Homo sapiens: one gene and its partners. The protein of the gene in region 3 interacts with the protein of the main gene of each other region in a pairwise test. Each region holds a gene or a part of one and is shown on either strand. Other genes may lie near its edges.

Region 1 (4,948 bases), on a different chromosome or scaffold from region 3:
AAATACAAAATTAACCGGGTGGGGTGGTGCATGCCTGTAATCCCAGCTACTTCTGAGGCTGAGGTAGGAGAATCACTTGAACCCGGGAGGCGGAGGTTGCGGTGAGCCGAGATCACGTCGAGCCGAGATCGCGTCATTGCACTCCAGCCCGGGCAACAAGAGTGAAACTCCATCTCAAAAAAAACAAAAAAACAAAACAAAACAAAACCTATTTGCTAAGCACAGAGGAAGAAAAAGATAGTCATTACTGTAAAACTGCAGAGCCCCAAAGCATATGAAACACTGCATCTCACTAATGATGGCGTTTTGGGAGAACTTCCTCAGACCTTTTACAGAGTATCTGGAAACATCAACTAATTGATGGGGAGCACAGCATTACCACAAAAACACTTGTAGAGCCTGTTTATTGCATAACTAGCAGGCACAAATTCCAAAACGATTTTACAACACTTAAAGGGCACAATAATTACAGGAATAGAATGTACAATAAAAAGTACAGAATAATGAGTGACAGGGATCAAACACGTTGGAATAAAAGGCATCTCAGTTTTCCTATGCAGCATTTTCTTTTCTAGGAACACGTTACCTTCAACCAGGACAAGGAAAGAAAGAAAACTATACTATTGGAAAGCTCATGGGTGCCATTGAGGACAAAAACAGGCGAGTTTTGCTCTTGGTTCTGCAACTGAATCACTTGAGAAGCCGTGCACAGCTCCCGAGTTGTGCGTTTAGAATTCTGATTACATGAAATGCTGTGTTTGATCTTTGGGCCCAATTCACTGTTCTTTGGCAAATAAGAACTATTTGCATTCCAAGGCAGATGACGATTTCTGTGAAAGGAGCTTAGAGGTACAGCTGTTTCCTTCTGTTCAGTCAAGTGCCAGTTTCATAAAGTGCACCTCTGCCCTATCAGCTTTGGGGGAAGGGTGGCATATGGGGAGGAAGGGATCATTGAGAATACAGGGTGAAAAAGAACGACGTTACTGAAGGTAGACATTGCTAGTGCAAGGTACGGAATCCATGTGCAAAAGGTGGCTGGAACAAATGTTCAGATAAGGTGCGATTTGCCAACAGGAGCAGAGAACTCTGACACCAGATCTCAGATGAGGCCAAGGAAATGCGCGGGGCACATACAGAGAGGACGACCTGCAGCCCTCCAATGGCCACGTCATTCCACCGGGGAACTTGTTTGGAGTTTTGGCACCGTGGGCTAACCGAGCACTCTTCTGACATATTCTTACAACTGGAAATGCTTTGTTGGTCCCCATGTTCCTTGACTTTCTCTAGGGCCATAAAGGCAACATCTTCTATTGCAGGTCCTCAAACATTCCAAGGAAAACACTGCTTCACCTCCTGCAGACAGCTCATTTCCCAGAAGCCTCTACAGAAGCCCGTCCTCCCTGGGACAGCAGGGGCAGGGGTTTGCAAGATAAAGGAGGGTCAGCTAAGGACATGAAGCCTGCAGAAAAGGCTATCAGATGGCGCCTGAACTTAAGGTGGGAGGCCCCCTTCTAGAAGGCATCCCGGGAGCATCCAACAGCAATGTGGCACTTAGGGCTGTGGGACAAACAAGTGGAAGAGTCTTTTGGAGACGTGGACCCTTTTCCCATGCTACTCACAGTGAAGCAAAATGCGACAAAAGCATCCACACACGGTGACTTAGTAAAGCAAGCACCGTCGGGGTGCTACTTTCATGACAGCATATGGTCAAGCTATAAAGGTGTGCATCGATCAGTCCTGTGAAAATAGAAGCTTAGTTATTAGCATGTATTGAGGCAACTTGTACTTTGATTCTTGTGTCTTCTTCACATGTGTGAATGACTGCTATGGGACAGAACATATGGTTAAAAACAGGAGCGACAGCAACATAACACACAGGGTTGGCCGGCTCCATTACGGGTAAGACTCAGAGGCTGCTCCAGGTGTGTCCGGGGAAGCCAGGCCCTCACACTGCACAGCTTACAGGGCCCTGGGGTGGGGGCTGTGAGCTGGCAGCCTAGAGGACACAGCTCACCTGCACATGGTCTCTGAAAGTGTTCAAATTGGTTGCCAACATTTATAAATGGAGAGATGGCACCAAAAAACATCTAGGTTTCTTGTCTCTTGAAAAATCAAAGCTGTGGCCACCCTAGGCCCACTTTTCCACATGGCAACAGGCGTGGAGCTGGGGGCTACTGCCCCTACTGTGTAGGCGGTGGGCTCCCCATAGTCTCCTCTGCCCTGCTGCCGTGTACCTGGCTCCCTTCACTCATCCACATCACCGGCCCTAGGCCAGGGTCTGAACCACACACACAGAATGGCTGCAGTAAGCAGGAACGGGAAGAGCTTTCACATTCAGAACAAGAAGGGGCTTTTGAGTAACTAAAAAACAATCTGAGCATGTTCCAGCACTTCAACCTTACTCTTTCAGAGCTTTGGGGTAGCAGGCAGCCAGCTAGAGCACACTCTCTAAGGAACTCTTGAAAGTTGATGTCTAATTTTTAAGTACTCATGAGGTGATGGAGGAGAAACTAACTCAGATGACTGCGATACGATACATCTTTCCTTATAAGAAGTCCTTAAAGATGATGAAAAATGTGAAGCAACTCATGTGAGAAAGCTGTAAGTGGTCAGAGAAGCAAGCTGACTTTTGGATGAAGGGTACAACACAGTGTCAGGGAGTAGGTGATTTCTTTTCCCTATAGTTCATGGTAGTGATACCTAAATGGGTGGCACAAAATGAGTTCTGGCTTGTTAGACTGATGCTTCTCTTTGCTGCAGGTTTTGAACAAACTGTCTGGCTTACAGGGGTGAGGGAGAGCACCTGACAATGGGTGGTGATGTGCGTGGAGCTCCTACCCTGAACATGGCTTCATGAGATGTCCTGTGGTGGGTCAATGCTTTATCTCATTCCATGGAGCCTTCAAGATGACAAGAAAACATCAAGAGATAGGAGCTTGAGATAACAACATTAAATAACAGAACATGTAACAGGGTAAAACACTGAGAAGAAATGAACCAATTCATTGTTTCCTCCCAAGAGAGACTGTGACACTAGTTTTAAAAAGCGGCAAAGTCCTTTCTCTACATACATGCTTGGAGATACCCCAAACTTAGAGATTATGAAGTAGGCCAGGAAATTCACTTATTGCACGATGCTTGGCAGGGAACAAATGACGCTGATTTTTTCTTTTTTAACTGAACTCTCTCAAGAAAATGTTTTATGAAAAATTTCATTTATAGTTTCAGCCATAGGCAGGGAGTTTTAAGGGATGGAAAAGTTTTCACAAACTTTAGACAATGAAACTATACTTTTGGATGTATGTGATCAACTCAACAGTTGTTGACAACACAACCGAACATCAGAAACTAAACCAGCAAATAGGCACAAAATAAGGCAAGTGGGTTAAATAGTTGAAAATTGGTTAGAAAACATGCAAAAATAATACTGAGTTTTCTTTTAAAAAGTTTTAAACCGTCATTAAATGTTTCTTTTTGTAGAAATCTGAAGAGTTCTGCGTCTGAATTTGAAATTGGACTTTATAAAGCCTAGAAAACAGAGGAGGCGGTGCCCTGCCCTTGTCAGTTGTTGTTCTCTTTGGTGGTGATGGTAACCAGCTGCTTGGCAGCCTTGGCGATGTCGTACGCACACTGGATGACCTGCTGCGTGACCAGCTGAACGTCTGTGGGTGAGCCGGGGTCCCCTGGGAGGGTCTTCTTGCACTCTGACTGCAGTCGGTAGGCACTGGACGTCAGTAAACGAAGGGAAGTCCTCACCATATCAGACTTGGGTTTCTAAAAGGAAAAAGACAGCCGTTTACCCTGAACTGCAGGGCAGACATCCAAAAGCAGGGGACAAACATTCTTCTAAAGCAAACCAAGCTGCTCCCCAGAGTGAAAGGCGGTTTGGTCCTGCCCTTTCTCAAAGGGGTGCTTCACACACTCCAAGCTTTGCAGCCCACAGCGTAAGAGATGCTGAAATATTCTGATTCAAAGGTCAAAGTGCATGCAGGGTAATTTTAGTAGTATGTGGTATTTTGAAGTAGTTTTTGAAAAATATTAATCCATGTGGGTAAAATATTCCAGAAAATCCTATAAATTTTAAAATGTGCCTTTTAGCACGACTTGTATATCCTTGTCTTATTAAATCAACATTCATGCAGAACAAAAATATTTCAAAGCTCTATACGACTGCATATTTTATTTTATTTTACTTTTTTTTGAGACTTGAGTTTCACTCTTGTTGCCCAGGCTGGAGCGCAATGGCACGATCTTGACTCACTGCAACCTCCGCCTCCTGGGTTCAAGCGATTCTCCTGCTTCAGCCTCCTGAGTAGCTGGGATTACAGGCATGCACCACCACGCCTGACTAATTTTGTATTTTTAGTAGAGACAGGGTCTCTCCATGTTGGTCAGGCTGGCCTCGAACTCCCGACCTCAGGTGATCTGCCTGTCTCGGCCTCCCAAAGTGCTGGGGTTACAGGCGTGAGCCACCACACCCGGCCTCGACTGCATATTTTAAAACTGCATGTGCTACAAAAAAGCTAATGTAATATATAGGTCATAAAGAAATTTCTTGCTGTTCATTTAAAAGGATTTAAACCAAGTGAGTAGGAAGTGACTTACTTTGGGGAATAATGCTGCCATTTCTGTAACAGCTACGTGTATCCTCTCTGAGCAGGGAATATAACTGCAAGAATATTGAAGAAGTTATTCAATGACAGTAAAAATGATTCGGAGGCAAAGAGGACTCAAGTGCTAGAACAGATTCTGTTTACATTCCCTTCATGAAGGGGCTAGGGCTGCAGTCAGCCGTGCATCCCACACCACCAGAGGGCACATGGTTATAAAGCAGGACTCTCATTGCTTCCTAAAAGTTCAATCTGATGAAAAGTCTCCAGGTATGAAATATGGCAACATACACTCTTGGTCAGGTGAGGCCACACAACAGTACAGAAACATAATTCAC
Region 2 (4,948 bases), on a different chromosome or scaffold from region 3:
GGGTAACAGCCCTGTGAGTGTAGCTGAATTCCCCAGAGGCCAGGAACAGACTAAGGAGCCTGGCTCTGGGCTTCAGATGGAGGGTATCCCAGAAAGGGGATGTTTGCCTGCACAGGTGAAATGGAGGTGGTGTGGTGACCTCCTCTAGAGGCCAGTGGCTCACAGAGACCCAACACCTGGGCAGGTGGGGCACCAGAAGAAAACATCCTACTGGCTGTCACTGCCCTGGCCTGACCCACTGCCAAGCTCTGGATGACTGTGAATGCAAGTCCTTCTGAGGCCAACTGGAAGCAGAGGCAGGGGAGGAGGGCGTAGCACAGAGCTTCTGTTCCATGGGGTCCCAGTGGGAAGGAAAGATGGGAACAGAGGCAAGGAGGCTATTTCAAGAGTCACTGTCAGAGCCACCGGCTCAACACTGTCGTGGGAAGAGGTGGGGGTGGCAGGTTCTGAGCTGATCTGCCATCCATACAGAAGGAACTGAGGCAGTGGTGAAGGCAGGGGTGAGCTGCCGCCCAAGCCTGGGGAAGTATGCTGTGTGGGAAGACCCCAGATAAGGAAGAGGAACAAAGCGCAACAGCTCAGGCTGGGTTTGTCCTTGCAGTGGCTCTCCTAGGAGCTCTTGCCCTCCAGGGCCAGGGCCAGGACCTGAGGCTCTCTCCTCCCTCAGGACCTGGGAAGGATGCATCTGAGCTTCTTCCTTACTGGCGACTGTGGTGGTGGCTTGCTCCTCTGTCCCCTCATCTGTCCCAGCAGGGGCAAGTATGCAACACACAGAACAGGGCTTGCTGACCATGTGTACTTCATGCCAGACACACGGCTAGATTTCCCCCACAATCTCCTACTTCCGGCAACGGCATCTGATTTGGGACAGCAGCCCCATGGCAGCCAGTACTGACAACGGTGAGCAAGGGTGGAGGAACTGTAGCTTCCCCCAGATTAGTCCAACCCAAGGAAGCTGCTGGCCGTACTGTGGAAAACCCAGGGCTGGTACAGGCCAGGGTCACTACAGACTATTTCTCTCTCCACTCACAGTCACATCCTGGGAACAAAGATGGGGTCCCTGCCCTCCAGGAGTTTATGGTCCAGTTGCCTTGGAGCCCAGTGAATGCTCTGCTAGAGAGAAAACACAGAAGCTAAGGGCACACTGAGGAGAGACTCAGAGAAGTCTTCCTGGAGGACAGGACTTAAAGTGAACCTTGACGATAACTGAGGGGCCTGGAGGAAGGGTGGGATGGGGAGCTTAGATGTGTGGGGAAGACCCCAACCCCCATCAGCCCTTTTCTCAGGCCTCAGAACGGTCCGCTCCCCCTTCTCCCACTGCCCGCTTCCTTCCCACTCATCTGAGCCAAACTTCCTTCCCAGCTTTGCCTCTCCTGAGCCAAACCTCCACCTCAGCCAGGGTTCCATTTCCTCGTCCTCCTCCCTCCTCTTCCTCTGAAGGTGCCCATCCTCTCATCTCCTTGACTCTTTCCTCTCAGCCCAAAAACCTGCTCCATTGCATCCAGCCTGAAAATCCCTCCTTAAGCCAGCACCTGCCTCTGCTTTCCTTCTCCACAGAACTATTGAGCAAATGAGCTACATTTGCCATCACCACCTCCTTCTCTCCTACTCAACTGTACAATCTGGTTTTTGCTGGCAAATGCTCTGTGCTCCTTAAAGTCCCCAACAATCACCCCATTGCCAAATTCCTCAAACAAACAAGCTGTGTTCAGCCAGGCCTCCAAGCCACTGCCCATGCTGTTCCCTCTTGTACCTCTGTACCTTTTCCACTTGGCAAACTCTGACCCAGCCTCCAAGCTGCCCCCAGACGTGCTATAGTGTGGGTACTTCCCTGGCCACCAACACCTGTTCCCATCCCTGAGAGAAGTCCCTCTGCTGAGCTCCCACAGCACTGACACACACATATCCATTGTTACACTGTCCATTACAGCAGCTGCCAGCTGGTCTAGAATGAGTGTTATTGCTGACAACAGCAGCAACCATTGTGTGAGTCTCTCTAGGCGCCAAGGACCATCCATCATCGTGTGTGATCCTGCAAGCAGTCGCACAAGGCAGGTGACTCAGAGACAATGTCACAGGGCCATGGCCTTCCTACCAGGCAGCACTGGCATCTGACTGGGAACCAGACTCAGAAATCAGTTGTTTATACATTAGTCTTCTCACATCAGACCTACGTGAATTCTTTTAGCGCACAAGTCATATTTTATTCATCTTTGTGACATCAGGACTTCACATGGCCTGGCACACTGCTGAGTCTCAGCACACATTTATCAGACTGTGGCTGGCTGCAGCATCCAGAACTGGCTTGGCCCCTACACTGGCCTATAACTAGGGGCTGCTGAGGAATACACGGAGGAAACCACTGAGATGAGGCAGGATGAACGCCAGGGAAAATCTGTGAATTATAAGAGCTACTGTATCAACATGGGGAAAGGGCTCCTCCGGGCCCAGTGTGGGCCAGCCTCCAGTAGGGTGGCTACAATGCAGAGGAGGCCCTAGAAACTGCCAGTCACCTCTAATCAGGGCCCAAAGCCTAATTCAGCATGCGTTGGGGGTCTGCTGCAGTGTTTCCCCTCTGCCCAAAACTAAAACTCATGTTAGAGGAAACCCTGAGCCTCTTTCTCTGAAGGCACAGCTGCCTCAGGAGGGGCAGGCAGGTGCTGTCTTGTCAGGGATCGGATCTTGGGCCCACTGCAGCGAAGGAGACATGTCTGTACCAATTATCACCAAAATCTAAGAGTAGGATAATAAATATATTTGGTTTTTGTCCCCCAGTTCTCATCACAGAGCAGCTAAAACCCTTGGAATTTCCTTAAGGTCAGAAGTATCTTCAGTTATGTATAACAAGCCCCTTTCCACAACACCTGAGCTTATGCTAATGTGATAATCTGGGAGAGACTAAGGATTGGGCCAGTCACCAGAGACACCAAGTGATTAGAGGATTAGAGGACTGGAAATATCAGCGCCATCCACCAACCTCCAGGAAAGTGGGGGTGGGTATGTAGGACATAGAGTGGGGGCTCTGAGATCAAGCTCTATAAAAACTCTTGGATAACAGGATTTGATGAGTTTCTCTAGCTACTGGGAGGGTGAAGGCCAGGAGAGGGCAGGGAAGTTCCAATACCACCATTCCCCCTGGCACCCCACGACACTGTGCCATCCGTCCCTCCCTCTGACTGTTCCTCTGCATCCTTTACAATAAGCCAGGAAATGTTAAGTGAAGTGTTTCCCCAGGTTCTGTGAGCCATCCTAGCAAATTATCAAGCCCAAGGAGAGGGTATGGGAACCCCAATCTATAGCTAGTTGGTTAAAAGCAAATGTAAAATAACCTGGGGCTTGGGACCAGCATGGGAAGTGGGGCTAAGTCTTGTGGGACTGAGTCCTCAACCTGTGGGATCAGACGCTATCTGCAGGTAAATGGCATCTGAAAAGAAATGGAGGACACCCAGCTGGTGTCCACTGGAGAACTGCTTGGTATGTGGGGTAATACCATGCCAGAATACCAACACCAGAAGTATTCTGTATTGAGTGTAAATACAGAGAAAAACGGCTTTTTCCCTTTTACACTAAAGGAATCAAGTCCAAACTCCCAAGTGTGCCAAGAGGCCCTGCACGTCCTGAACTGTGCTTACTGCTCCCACCTCGTTTTTGTTTTTGAGACAGGGTCTCACTCTATCACCCAGGCTAGAGTGCAGTGGCACAATCATAGCTCACTACGGCCTTGAACTCTTGGACGCAAGCGATCTTCCCACCTCAGCCTCCTGAGCAGCTGGGATTACAGGTGTGTGTTACCACACCCAGCTAATTTTTTGATTTTTTTTGTAGAGATGAGTCTCCCTATGTTGCATGTTGCCCAGGCTGGTCTCAAACTCCTGGGCTCAAGTGATCCTCCCGCCTCAGACTACCAAATCACTGAGGACCTGGCCTCCCACCTCTCATCTTGACACCCTCCCTTCCAGTGCCTTCTCATCAGGTCCTAGGGTTGTTCTCCCTGCCTGGAGCACCGTCCTCTCCTCCCTCGTCCCACCCTCTCCCACACGCTTTCATGAATTCCTACTCATCCTTCAGCCCCAGGCTTGGCTGTCACCTCCTCTGACAGCTGCACCCTTCCTGATGCAACCAGGTTGGGTGACCCTCCTCTGTGTTTCCAAAGTACCCTGTGCTCCCTCCAGCACAGCTTCTCTATCCTGCCTATTCACCTGCCTGTTACCTGCTCCTAGGCGTGAGCTCCATAAGGACAAAGGAACTTGGTCTGCCCTGTGGGGCTGTGGCCTTAGCACCTAGCACACTGTTTGGGTCCATCAGTATTTGTTAAGTGAAATATCCGTGGAAAGGGCCAGTCTCCAAGAAGAGACTTCACTAATAAAGAGTATGACACAGATTTCTAATTCCTGGCATCTCCACATGTTCACACACACTGATCCTGACATCTATCTACTCTGTGAAAGAGGAAGCAACCCGAGTTTACAAAGATGGAAAGTGAACAGAGCAAGGCCTCTGTTATTATTTATTGTTGTATGTCCCTGTTTCTTAAAGCAACAGGCACTATCCCAAGTTCATACAACCTGTGCATGAGGCTCTCAAACTCTGTGCCTTGGTTCTCCCAAGGCTAAGCAGGAAGTCAAAGATTAAGAAGTCAAGAGCCTCAGCCCAATTCTGCTTCAGCCTGGCACTCCCTCCCCTCCTGCATCTCAGCTGCCTCTCACACAGGGTGGCTGGGTCCTCCTCACCAATGATGGCTTCCTTCAGGCTGGACTCAACAGGAAGGATGTTCTTCTCCACCAGCTCCATGGGGCCAGGCCTCTGTGCAATCTTCTCATTGAGGTCATCGGCTAGTCTGGCTCTCTTCAGCTTCAGCTGCTTGGCCTGGAGGGATGGCTCAGCCGAGGTCTCTGCCCATGGGAGAGAAAGGGGTGCAGGAAGATATATGAGTGGACGTGGTTCTGCC
Region 3 (4,948 bases):
CATCTCTCCAAAAAAAAAAATTAGCTAGACATGGTGGCATGTACCTGTAGTCTCAGCTACCCAGGAGGCTGAGGCATGGCTTTTGTGAGCTATGATTGCACCACTGCACTCCAGCCTGGGTGACAGAGTAAGACTCCGTCTCAAAAAAAAAAAAAAAAAAAAAAAAGTCTGACCTGAGTCTCTTAAGGATGAGGCTCTGGAGCACCTAGTAAACTTGGTCCCATTTGTGTGACTCAAAGGGACATGTCCAAAGTCCAAAGTGCTGGGGGCAGGGGTGGGGCTTAGGTAGGGCATGTGACATTCCTGAACAGGCCAAGCACTGGGTGAAACTACTCAGGATTCAGAAGCAGGTGGGATGGGTGGGTGGAACATGATAATCATCCCCCTTCTCCTTCCTTTCCACCCTACCCTTGCTCACAACTGCAGGAGCTGAGGATGGGAGAGAACTGGGGACGAGGGGGCCAGAGTGATTTGCAGTGTTAGTAATGCAGCTGGTTCTATGGAAGGCTCAGTTCCATCTGGGATCCCTTTATGAGCAGTGGACTAGGTCTTCACATTCAGCCCAGGATTACTAAAGCATAGGAAAGAGGCAGGGAACATAGACACAGCTCATGTAAACATTCCTTTTGTTTATGGCCGAATCCTAGCCACTGGACTACCTGAGGCATACAGATATTCTTTGGCTATGGGCTGACATTTGAATACAGCTGGGGCCTCAGGATTCTCTGAAATAAAGGGCTGCCTCCCTCTGGAGGAGCCAGGCAGCTCCTCAGAGCAGCTGCCCATTGCGTGCTGGACAAGGCCATGTCACCACCTCCATGGCTCCCCAGTTTCCCAGCTTGCTGTATCTCTCCACCGTAAGAGACTGGGAGCACCTTGATCTGAAGCTCTTTGCAGTGCCGGTGGCAGTGTAGGGGGAAGTAGTTGATGGGAGTGAGGGAAAGGAATTGGCAAGGAACCCTGGGCCTCTGTGGCTCACTGCATCAAGCAGTTCTTGGCAAAGGTAAGGTCAGGATGGGCTGTGTCGTCTTGGGTGGGGTGAAGACAGGGAGCAGTGGGCATGCAGATGCGGACAGGGAAGGGTGCAGTGGCCTGGCTGGAGGAGGTAGGGCCGTATCCCACCCAGAGTCTGTCACCAGATTCATGCCTGCCCCACCCCAGGCTCCCCAGGTTCATCCTGTGTCGTCTCCCCCACCTACCAGTCATCTTCTTGTGAGCCCTGGGCTTAGGAGTCACCATGGCAACTGAAGAGTTCATCATCCGCATCCCCCCATACCACTATATCCATGTGCTGGACCAGAACAGCAACGTGTCCCGTGTGGAGGTCGGGCCAAAGACCTACATCCGGCAGGACAATGAGAGGTGGGTGTGGGGGCTGGGCTGTGGGGGATCCTTGGGGATGTGGGGGCCTGTTTGGCTGGCATGATGGTCCTTATCCTCCTCCCTCTTCCCAAGCAGGAGTGGCCCTCGCTTGGGCGATAGAGAGGTTTCTCTCTCATTTGGTGTCCTCTTTGGTAGTGGAGACCTGGTCCCAGGTCCTCACACCTCTTCTCATCTTCCTGCAGGGTACTGTTTGCCCCCATGCGCATGGTGACCGTCCCCCCACGTCACTACTGCACAGTGGCCAACCCTGTGTCTCGGGATGCCCAGGGCTTGGTGCTGTTTGATGTCACAGGGCAAGTTCGGCTTCGCCACGCTGACCTCGAGATCCGGCTGGCCCAGGACCCCTTCCCCCTGTACCCAGGGGAGGTGCTGGAAAAGGTACCTGGTTTCCTCACTCCCTATGCCCCACCCTACCTGTCCTCCACCTGCCTTGGGCTCTATACTGCTGCCTTCTTCTTCTTTTTTTCTTTTCTTTTTTGAGGCAGAGTTTCACTCTTGTCGCCCAGGCTGGAGTGCAGTGGCATAATCTCGGCTCACTGGAAGCTCCACCTGGGTTCAAGTGATTTTCCTGCCTCAGCTTCCTCAGTAGCTGGGATTACAGGCACCCGCCACCACGCCCGGCTAATTTTTGTATTTTTAGTAGAGACAGGGTTTCACCATGTTGGCCAGTCTGATCTCAAACTCCCGACCCCAGGTGATCCACCTGCCTCGGCCTCCCAAAGTGCTGGGATTACAGGCATGAGCCACTGTTCCCGGCCTGTACCGAGTTCTAAAGGGAAAACAAACCAGGGCAGTGGGAGGGGTGGGGAGAGACACTTGCTGGCTCTCACCAAGGGTGGAATTGACTCACTGTACCTCCACTCACCTCCAGCCACCCCCATCCTCCACACATGCCCCAAACACACCTGCCTCTTTTCTGAGAACTGTTGGCCCATCTCACCTTCCCAGGCTCCAGAGCCTACCAGAAGTGCCCAGCCAGTCTGGCATTAAATGACATGTGCCAAGGTTAAGCAGTTCATTCACCCGGTGCCAGACACTGGTGGGCAGTGCCAAAGCAGCAGTGACAAGCCCAGGCCCCAGGCTGTGCCTGTTCTAGGAGAAGCCATCACAGGCCTGAACCTACAGCCAGGCTCTTGTCCCCGTTGGCCTCAGGCCTGGGCCTGAGCAGGTGGGTGTCCCACCTTCATTCCTTTACCTGTTCTTCCACCTTTACCTTCTGGCCATTTAATGGTTTTGGGTTTTTTGTTTGTTTGTTTGTTTGTTTTTAATAGAGACGGGGTTTCACCGTGTTAGCCAGGATGGTCTTGATCTCCTGACCTCATGATCCGCCCGCCTCGGCCTCCCAAAGTGCTGGGATTACAGGCATGAGCCACCGTGTCCAGCCCCATTTAATGGTTTTCTTACTGACTTTACTAACCAGTGCTGCTTGATCCTGAAAGCATAATAGCAGAACATGGGGAACTTTTAGAGACATTCATGTCCACTTAGGTGCAGACAGTTTGGGGGAAGAAGTGTGTGTGTAGAGAGAAAATGAAGAATGATTAAGACAATAACCCTTAAGGAATCCAAGTGAAAAGTATATAGGGATTCTTGTACCTTTTTTTTTTTTTTTTTTTTTTTGAGATGGAGTCTCACTCTGTTGCCCAGGCTGGAGTACAGTGGCATAATCTCGGCTAACTGGAAGCTCTGCCTCCCAGGTTCACGCAATTCTCCTGCCTCAGCCTCCCGAGTAGCTGGGACTACAGGCGCCCACCACCACACCCGGCTAACTTTTTGTGTTTTTAGTAGAGATGGGGTTTCACCGTGTTAGCCAGGGTGGTCTCGATCTCCTGACGTCATGATCCACCTGCCTTGGCCTCCCAAAGTGCTGGGATTACAGGCGTGAGCCACCGCGCCTGGCCTTTTTTTTTTTTTTTTTTTCTGGATCTCCCCCTGTTGCCTAGACGAGAGTGCAGTGGGGTGATCATAGCTCACTGCAGCCTCAACCTCCTGGGCTCAAACGATCCTTCCACCTCATTCTCCCAAAATGCTGGGATTGCAGGTGTGAGCCACCAAGCCCTGCCTAAGCTTTCATTTTAAATATGTTCAGCCGGGCACAGTGGCTCACGCCTGTAATCCCAGCACTTTGGGAGGCCAAGGTAGGCAGATCACTTGAGGTCAGGAGTTTGAGACCAGGCTGGCCAACATGGCGAAAACCCATCTCTACTAAACATACAACAATTAGCCAGGCGTGGTGGCATGCGCCTGTAATCCCAGCTACTTGGGAGGCTGAGGCATGAGAATTACTTGAACCTGGGAGGCGGAGATTGCAGTGAGCTGAGATTGCGCCACTGCGCTCCAGCCTGGGTGACAGAGCAAGACTCTGTCTCAAAAAAAAAAAAAAAAATTAGCTGGGGGTGGTGACACACCTGTAATCCCAGCCACTCAGGAGGCTGAGACAGAAGGATCACATGAGCCTGGGAGATTGAGACTGTTGTGAGCCATGGTTGTACCACTGCAGTCCAGCCTGGATGACATAGGAAGACCCCATCTCCAAAAATAAAAAAAAGCCAGCTCTTCCTTTGAGCCCCAGTTTCAGTTCAAAGGGCCTTCTCTAACTTCTCCTTCATCTGAACTCCTGAGACAGGGTCTTGCTCTGCTGCCCAGGCTGAAGTGCAGTGGTGCAGTCATAGCTCACTGAAGCCTTAACCTCCTGGGCTCAAGTGATCCTCCCACCTCAGCCTCCCGAGTAGCTGGGACTACAGGTGTGCGCCGCCACCATGCCTGGCTACACTTTTTTTTTTTTTTTTTTTTTTTAGAGATGGGATCTTGCTATGTTGCCCAGGCTGGTTCTTGAATGTCTGAGGTCAAGCAATCCTCCTACCTCAGTCTCCCAAAGTTCTGGGATGACAGGTGTGAGCCACTGTGCCCGGCCTCCACCCCAGTCTTATTTCAGGACATACAGAGATGGATGTTGTGGACCCGCCTCCAGAGCATCAGGCTTGGCCCTGGGGTCACAGCACTGATGGTTCTGTGTCTCCACCTTCTTCCCCACTAGGACATCACACCCCTGCAGGTGGTTCTGCCCAACACTGCCCTCCATCTAAAGGCGCTGCTTGATTTTGAGGATAAAGATGGAGACAAGGTGGTGGCAGGAGATGAGTGGCTTTTCGAGGGACCTGGTAAGTTCTGTCTCCATAGGGCTCCCTGCCTTCCTGTCATAGCCCTGATACCTTCTGACCATCACCTTCCCTCCCCAGGCACGTACATCCCCCGGAAGGAAGTGGAGGTCGTGGAGATCATTCAGGCCACCATCATCAGGCAGAACCAGGCTCTGCGGCTCAGGGCCCGCAAGGAGTGCTGGGACCGGGACGGCAAGGAGAGGGTGACAGGTGGGGTCACCAAGGGGCGATGATGGTGGGTGGGCAGGAGGGGTCCCCACTGCAGGGGAAGCAGGGGAAGGTTGAGGAAAGCCTCCTGTAGCCCCAGAGAGGCGCTTTCCTGGTATCTTTTGAAAGCTGTTGAGGGCCACCCACTGCTCTTCCTTCCCCACCCCCGCTTCATGCTGTTTCCACTTGGGCTGGAA
Region 4 (5,672 bases), on a different chromosome or scaffold from region 3:
GACTTTCATGGGGGCATAGTTTTCTCCCCTCCAGGTGGTTAACAACAGAAGAGGGAAAGGTACTCATGCCCGAAGCCAGCCAGTGGAAAATACTTAAGACCCTCCACCAAACTTTTCATATGGGTATTGAGAACACTCATCAAATGGCCAAATCCCTATTTACAGGGCCAAATCTCCTTCAGACCATCCAACAAGTAGTCAAAGCCTGTGAGGTGTGCCAAAGGAATAATCCCTTGGTCCATCATAAGGCCCCTCTGGGGGAACAAAGAATAGGGCACTATCTAGGAGAAGACTGGCAGTTAGACTTCGCCCATATGCCTAAGTCAAGGGGATTTCAATACTTGTTGGTCTGTGTTGATACCTTTGCAAATTGGATGAAGCCTTGTCCTGCAAGACAGAGAAGGCTCAAGAAGTGGTTAAAGTCCTAATTCATGAAGTAATTCCTAGATTTGGGCTTCCCCAAAGCTTACAAAGTGACAATGGTCTGGCTTTTAAAGCCATGGTAACTCAGGGAGTTTCCAGGGCACTAGAGATACAATATCACCTTCACTGTGCCTGGAGGCCACAATCCTCAGGAAAAGCCCATACAAGACCTTGTGACCACGAATACCGAATACCATCTTAACTTTCCAAGCCCTTTTATGCATCCAACACAACCTGTTATCAGGCCTGCCCCTGGGGCACCTACTATCCCATCAGTGTAATTACACCCTATAACTTCAAGCCCCAACTGATCATAGTAACTCCTGAGTCACCCAAACACCTCCATTCAGATGGCTTGTCTGCTTCTCAGGGCCCCCCAAAATCATCACCTCCTCCCTGTTTAACAAACAGTCTGGGTTTTGTAATGGCAAACATACTCCCTGCATGACCATTCACCCCTGGACCCCCTGCAGCAGCGCCCCCACCACTAGTGTATGTCTTCTTATCCCCTCTTTCAATTACTCTCTTGGATGGTTCCTAGTAGATACAAAACGGTTTTTTCTCCAATGGGAAAATAGAGCACAGGGAGCCACTCAGTCTGCTCCCAACACCCTTTCCAGCTGCTCACCAGAGCTACCTTGGCAAGTACTCTAGGAGTGTGGGAAAATGAAAACAAACTCACACACCTTTTTAACATACACAACCAGTTTATTCTACCCAGCCAAGGCATATTCTTCTTATGTGGAACTTCAACCTATATCTGCCTCCCACCAGCTGGACAGGCACCTGCACCTTCTCCTAAGTCCCAACACTAACAATGCCACAGGAAATCAGACCCTATCAGTGCCCCTCAAAGCTCAAGTCTGTCAGCCCAGGACCATACAACTAATACCCCTACTTATAGGGCTAGGAATGCCCACTGCTACAGGAACCAGAATAGCCAGTTTAACTACTTCATTATCCTACTACCATACACTCTCAAAGGATTTCTCAGACAGTTTGCAATAAATAAATCTATCCTTACTCTACAATCCCAAATAGACTATTTGGCAACAGTGACTCTCCAAAACCGCTAAGGTCTAGACCTCCTCACTGCTGAGAAAGGAGGACTTTGCACCTTCTTAGGGGAGGAGTGTTGTTTTTAAACTAACCAGTCAGGGATAGTACAGGATGCTGCCTGGCATTTACAGGAAAAGGCTTCTGAAACCAGACAACACCTTTCAAATTCTTATACCAACCTCTGGAGTTGGGTGACTTGGCTTCTCCCCTTTCTAGGTCCCGTGACAGCCATCTTGCTATTACTCACCTTCAGTCCCTGTATTTTTAACCTCCTCCTCAAATTTGTTTCCTCCAGGATCAAGGCCATCAAGCTACAGATGGTCTTACAAATGGAACCCCAAATGAGCTTAACTCACAACTTCTACCGAGGACTGCTAGACTGACCCACTGGCCCTTTGACTGGCCTAGAGAGTTCCCCTCTGGAGGACACTACAACGGCAGGGCCCCTTCTTTGCCCCTATCCAGCAGGAAGTAGCTAGAGTGGTCATCACCCAGTTCCCAGTAGCAGGTGGGGTGTCCTGTTATGAGGGAGGATTGAGAGGTGAGGCCAGCTGGACTTCCTAGGTCGAGTGGGGACTTGGGGAACTTTCCTGTCTTACAAGAGAATTGTAAAATGCACCAATCAGCGCTCTGTAAAACGCACAATCAGCAGCATTCTAAAAGTAGCCAATCACGGGGAGGATTGAAAAAAGGGCACTCTGATAGGACAGAAATGGAACATGGGAGAGGACAATAAGGGAATAAAAGCTGGCCACCCCAGCCAGTAGCGGCAACCTGCTGGGGTCCCCTTCCATGCTGTGGAAGCTTTGTGCTTTCGCTGTTCACGATAAACCTTGCTATCACTCACTCTTTGGGTCTGCGCCATCTTTACGAGTGTAACACTCACTGCGAAGGTCCACAGCTCCATTCTTGAAGTCAGCAAGACCACGAACCCACCGACAGGAACCAACTCTGGACACAACTATAGCCTCCAACTCCTGGGCTCAGGCAATCCTTCTGCCTTAGCCTCCCAAGTAGCTGGGGCTACATGCATGCACTAATGTCTAGCTAATTTTATTTTTATTTTTGGAGAGACAGGGTCTTGCTCTTTCACCCAGGCTGGTCTTGAACTCTCAGCCTCAAGTGATCCTCCCACCTTAGCTTCCCAAAGCACAGAGATTACATGCCTTTCCCTCAAGCTACTTGCCATCTCATCTTCCTTACTATATTAAAAGCAAAGGCTCCGGACATGGACTACTGGGGTTGGATTTCTGGCTCTGCTCTTTAACAGCTATGTGATTTGGACAGCTGGTTTCTTTCTGTGCCTCAGTTTCCTCATATGTAAAAGGAGGATATGAACAATGGCTTCCATGCCTGGCCTTCTTTTTCACTTTATAAATAAGTATACTTCTCTCCTTTCTGAATGTGGGAATAATACATTGTTTATAAATTTAGAAGTTGGAAACTACAAAAAAAAAAAACACAAAAAAAAGAGAGAGAGAAAGAAAATCATTACATTATTCCTAATCTCATTTGATGTACTTTGGCCTATTTCTTTCAGGCACTTTTCTGCATGTACCTTTTTTCCATAGCTGAAACCATATTGTATAAATAGCTTCAGATTCTGGTGGGGTGGTTTTTTCATGTAGTAGAACAGGTGTTTTCCCAAGTCCCTGAGCTCTCACTCTGCACACCCCATCTACCATTTCCCAGTGATGTGGCTTTGGGCGGTTGCTGCAGTTTGCTATTACACAAGTAAGCATGCAACCCACACCTGGGGAGAGAACTTTCTTCTCTCCTGAATCTCGGCTCGCATCTTTAAGCGCCACCCCATTAGACAGGAGGCAGCAGAAGCACAAAGCTCCATGAGTAACTCCTCTCCCTTTTGGAAAAGTTCACAGAAAGCAATTTTGGAGACCTTGGCAACGTTTAATTATGAACATTTAGAAAGACAACGGATCTCCTCATATGCACTGGGACTTCAGGGCCAGGTCTTCAGTTTCATGATTCGCATGATTCGCAGGGCTCCGGCACAGGAGCAATCTGAAAGCTGGGCTGCAAGCCCAGCGCGGTCTGCCTCCTGAGGCCCCGACCCACTGCGGCGGCGGCGCTGGGCCCCCTTACCTGGGCAGCGCCAGGGCCTCCTCCGTGCGGCCGAGGACGCCGAACACCGCTGGCAGCGCCAGCACCCCGTCAAGGTCGAAGACGGCCGCGCGCAGCGTCATGGCGGCGGGTCTGCAGCCTAGCACCCGGACACGCAGCTAACCTGGGAGATGCGCGAAGGCCAGGGCGCATGACCCGCCCAGCTTGGCCCGGCTCTGCCCCGCCCCTGCCCTGGCCCCGCCTCCTCCCCACACCCCCTTAACGGGACTCCGCCCTCTGCCCGGGTTAAGGCTGGACTCTGGCCGGGAAAGAGGCAGGGGGAGGGGCACAGGAAAGGGAGTCAGAGGGAGAGGAAGAGGAGGCCGGGAAGGCGGGGACCCCAGGCTAGAATCTCGCCTCTGGATGTAACGCTTTCTACTGTCTCAAAGGAAAGTCCAAAGTCTCTTATGCCCCCTCCCCACGCCCCTGCAGTAGCTGCTTGAAGAGGCAAACCCAGGCCCGGGCCTTCCTGGACGGACTGACAGCTCCCTGCGAACTTGCTGGACTTGGAATGCCTGGGAAAGAGGCCACAGACTCTGTGTGTGTGTGTGTGTGTGTGTGTGTGTGTGTGTGTGTGTGTGTGTGTGTGTGTCAGCACATCCAGTGACTTCTACATTCAGAACATAAGACCGTGTTGGGGGGCGGGGGAGGGGCATATCCAGTGACTTTTCTAGATTCAGAACGAAGGATCACAGATCCCTCACTATCCTGACCACTCCTCTAGGCACGCTCTTCTTTGCCAAGGCAAATGTGTTTCTAGAATAAAATATGATGTTCCAGCTATCGTGTGCCAGCCCAGAATACTTCGATTTCAATCTCTTGTGGAATGAAGCTTAGAAGAACTAAATGTAGGCTATTATTTTCCTTTTGTACATGCTACTTGTAATAATTCTGTCTTAAAATGTGCGAGGTTTGTTTTTAATCACCGATTTCCACACTATTGGCTCGTTTATGTTCCTAGAAAAACTAAAACTTTGGCTGGGAGTTCTTGAGCTGTTGTAGTGCAGCTCCATGAATTAAAAACCGTGTCTTTGGTGGAGACCAAACAGAGTGAGTGAGGTCTCCAACAGTGGAGAATTTACTCTTGAATGTGTCTCTGTGGATTTATCCAAGATACCCTCCACCACGGAGCTTCAAGAACCTTGTGAGGGGTTGTCAGATACCTCACTGTAACTGGGAGGTCTACAACAGTCTCTGGATCTAGCAATCAACAACAGGATTGACCAGAGCCGTGGGTTTCCTCTGGGCTGTTTGCCCTTAGCAAGCTATGCTGTTGCTTCCTTCTCTAGCTTGGTAACCTCTTCCAGGCTCCTGCCTGGAGCAGTTATTAGTGTTTTCTGAGATTCTTGCCAAAGAAGCAGAGAGTGGCCAACACTGCCAAATGTTACAGGAAGAACTGAAAAAAAAGCTGTCCAATTTTGGACTTGGATGACACCGGATGTTTCAGAACACTTTTTGTGGGCCCTTTATGGTAGAAACTGGATTACTCTGGATTTGAAGACTGAAAGATAGGCAGAGAAGGGAGTACAGCAAGCTAGTTTCTCATGAAGTTAGTTGATCTCAAAGGTATAATTGAATTTTAAAAAATAGAAAGAAAATTGCAGCCTGACCTATATAGTATGAAACCTGTTAAATCTCCAGATTGGGCATGGTGGCACACACCTGTAATCCCAGCACTTTGGGGCTGAGGTGGGAGAATTGCTTGAGGCCAGGAGTTTGAGACAAGCCTGGGCAACAAAGCAAGACATTCTCTCTATAAAAAATAAAAATAAAATATTAGCTAGGCATGGTGGTGCATGCCAGTAGTCTCTGCTATTCAGGAGGCTGAGGTGGGACGATCACTTTAGCCCAGGAAGTGGAGGCTGCAGTGAGCCATGATTGTGCCACTGCACTCCATCCAGCCTGGGTGACACAGCAAGACTCTACCTCCAAAAAAAAAAAAGAAAGAAATTAAATCTCCAACTTAGAGTTTCCTTTGGGCTCCAGACTTGCCAACTTCTTACTCAACATCTTACTCAACGTCAATATCCAACTTCTTACTGAACATCTTCTCTTGAGTGTCTAACAGG

Evidence for each region.
Region 1: the proteins of MVP (region 3) and GIT2 interact in a two-hybrid assay, tested with the Homo sapiens proteins (one large-scale study listed by BioGRID and IntAct).
Region 2: the proteins of MVP (region 3) and MRTFA interact in a two-hybrid assay, tested with the Homo sapiens proteins (one large-scale study listed by BioGRID).
Region 4: the proteins of MVP (region 3) and EPHX2 interact in a two-hybrid assay, tested with the Homo sapiens proteins (one large-scale study listed by BioGRID and IntAct).

The regions. Positions count from the first base shown.
Region 1 is NC_000012.12:109,929,417-109,934,364, forward strand, and holds the end of GIT2 (ARF GTPase-activating protein GIT2), read right to left. Parts: intron 4,670-4,948; coding exon 4,606-4,669; intron 3,775-4,605; coding exon 3,562-3,774; 3' UTR 388-3,561; downstream 1-387. UniProt on the Homo sapiens protein: GTPase-activating protein for ADP ribosylation factor family members, including ARF1.
Region 2 is NC_000022.11:40,424,876-40,429,823, forward strand, and holds part of MRTFA (myocardin-related transcription factor A), read right to left. Parts: intron 4,893-4,948; coding exon 4,731-4,892; intron 1-4,730. UniProt on the Homo sapiens protein: Transcription coactivator that associates with the serum response factor (SRF) transcription factor to control expression of genes regulating the cytoskeleton during development, morphogenesis and cell migration.
Region 3 is NC_000016.10:29,829,313-29,834,260, forward strand, and holds part of MVP (major vault protein), read left to right. Parts: intron 1-1,161; exon of another isoform or gene 1,162-1,202; 5' UTR 1,203-1,237; coding exon 1,238-1,362; intron 1,363-1,565; coding exon 1,566-1,761; intron 1,762-4,420; coding exon 4,421-4,544; intron 4,545-4,622; coding exon 4,623-4,754; intron 4,755-4,948. UniProt on the Homo sapiens protein: Required for normal vault structure. Vaults are multi-subunit structures that may act as scaffolds for proteins involved in signal transduction. Vaults may also play a role in nucleo-cytoplasmic transport.
Region 4 is NC_000008.11:27,489,223-27,494,894, reverse strand, and holds the start of EPHX2 (bifunctional epoxide hydrolase 2), read right to left. Parts: upstream 3,753-5,672; 5' UTR 3,687-3,752; coding exon 3,586-3,686; intron 1-3,585. UniProt on the Homo sapiens protein: Bifunctional enzyme. The C-terminal domain has epoxide hydrolase activity and acts on epoxides (alkene oxides, oxiranes) and arene oxides. Plays a role in xenobiotic metabolism by degrading potentially toxic epoxides.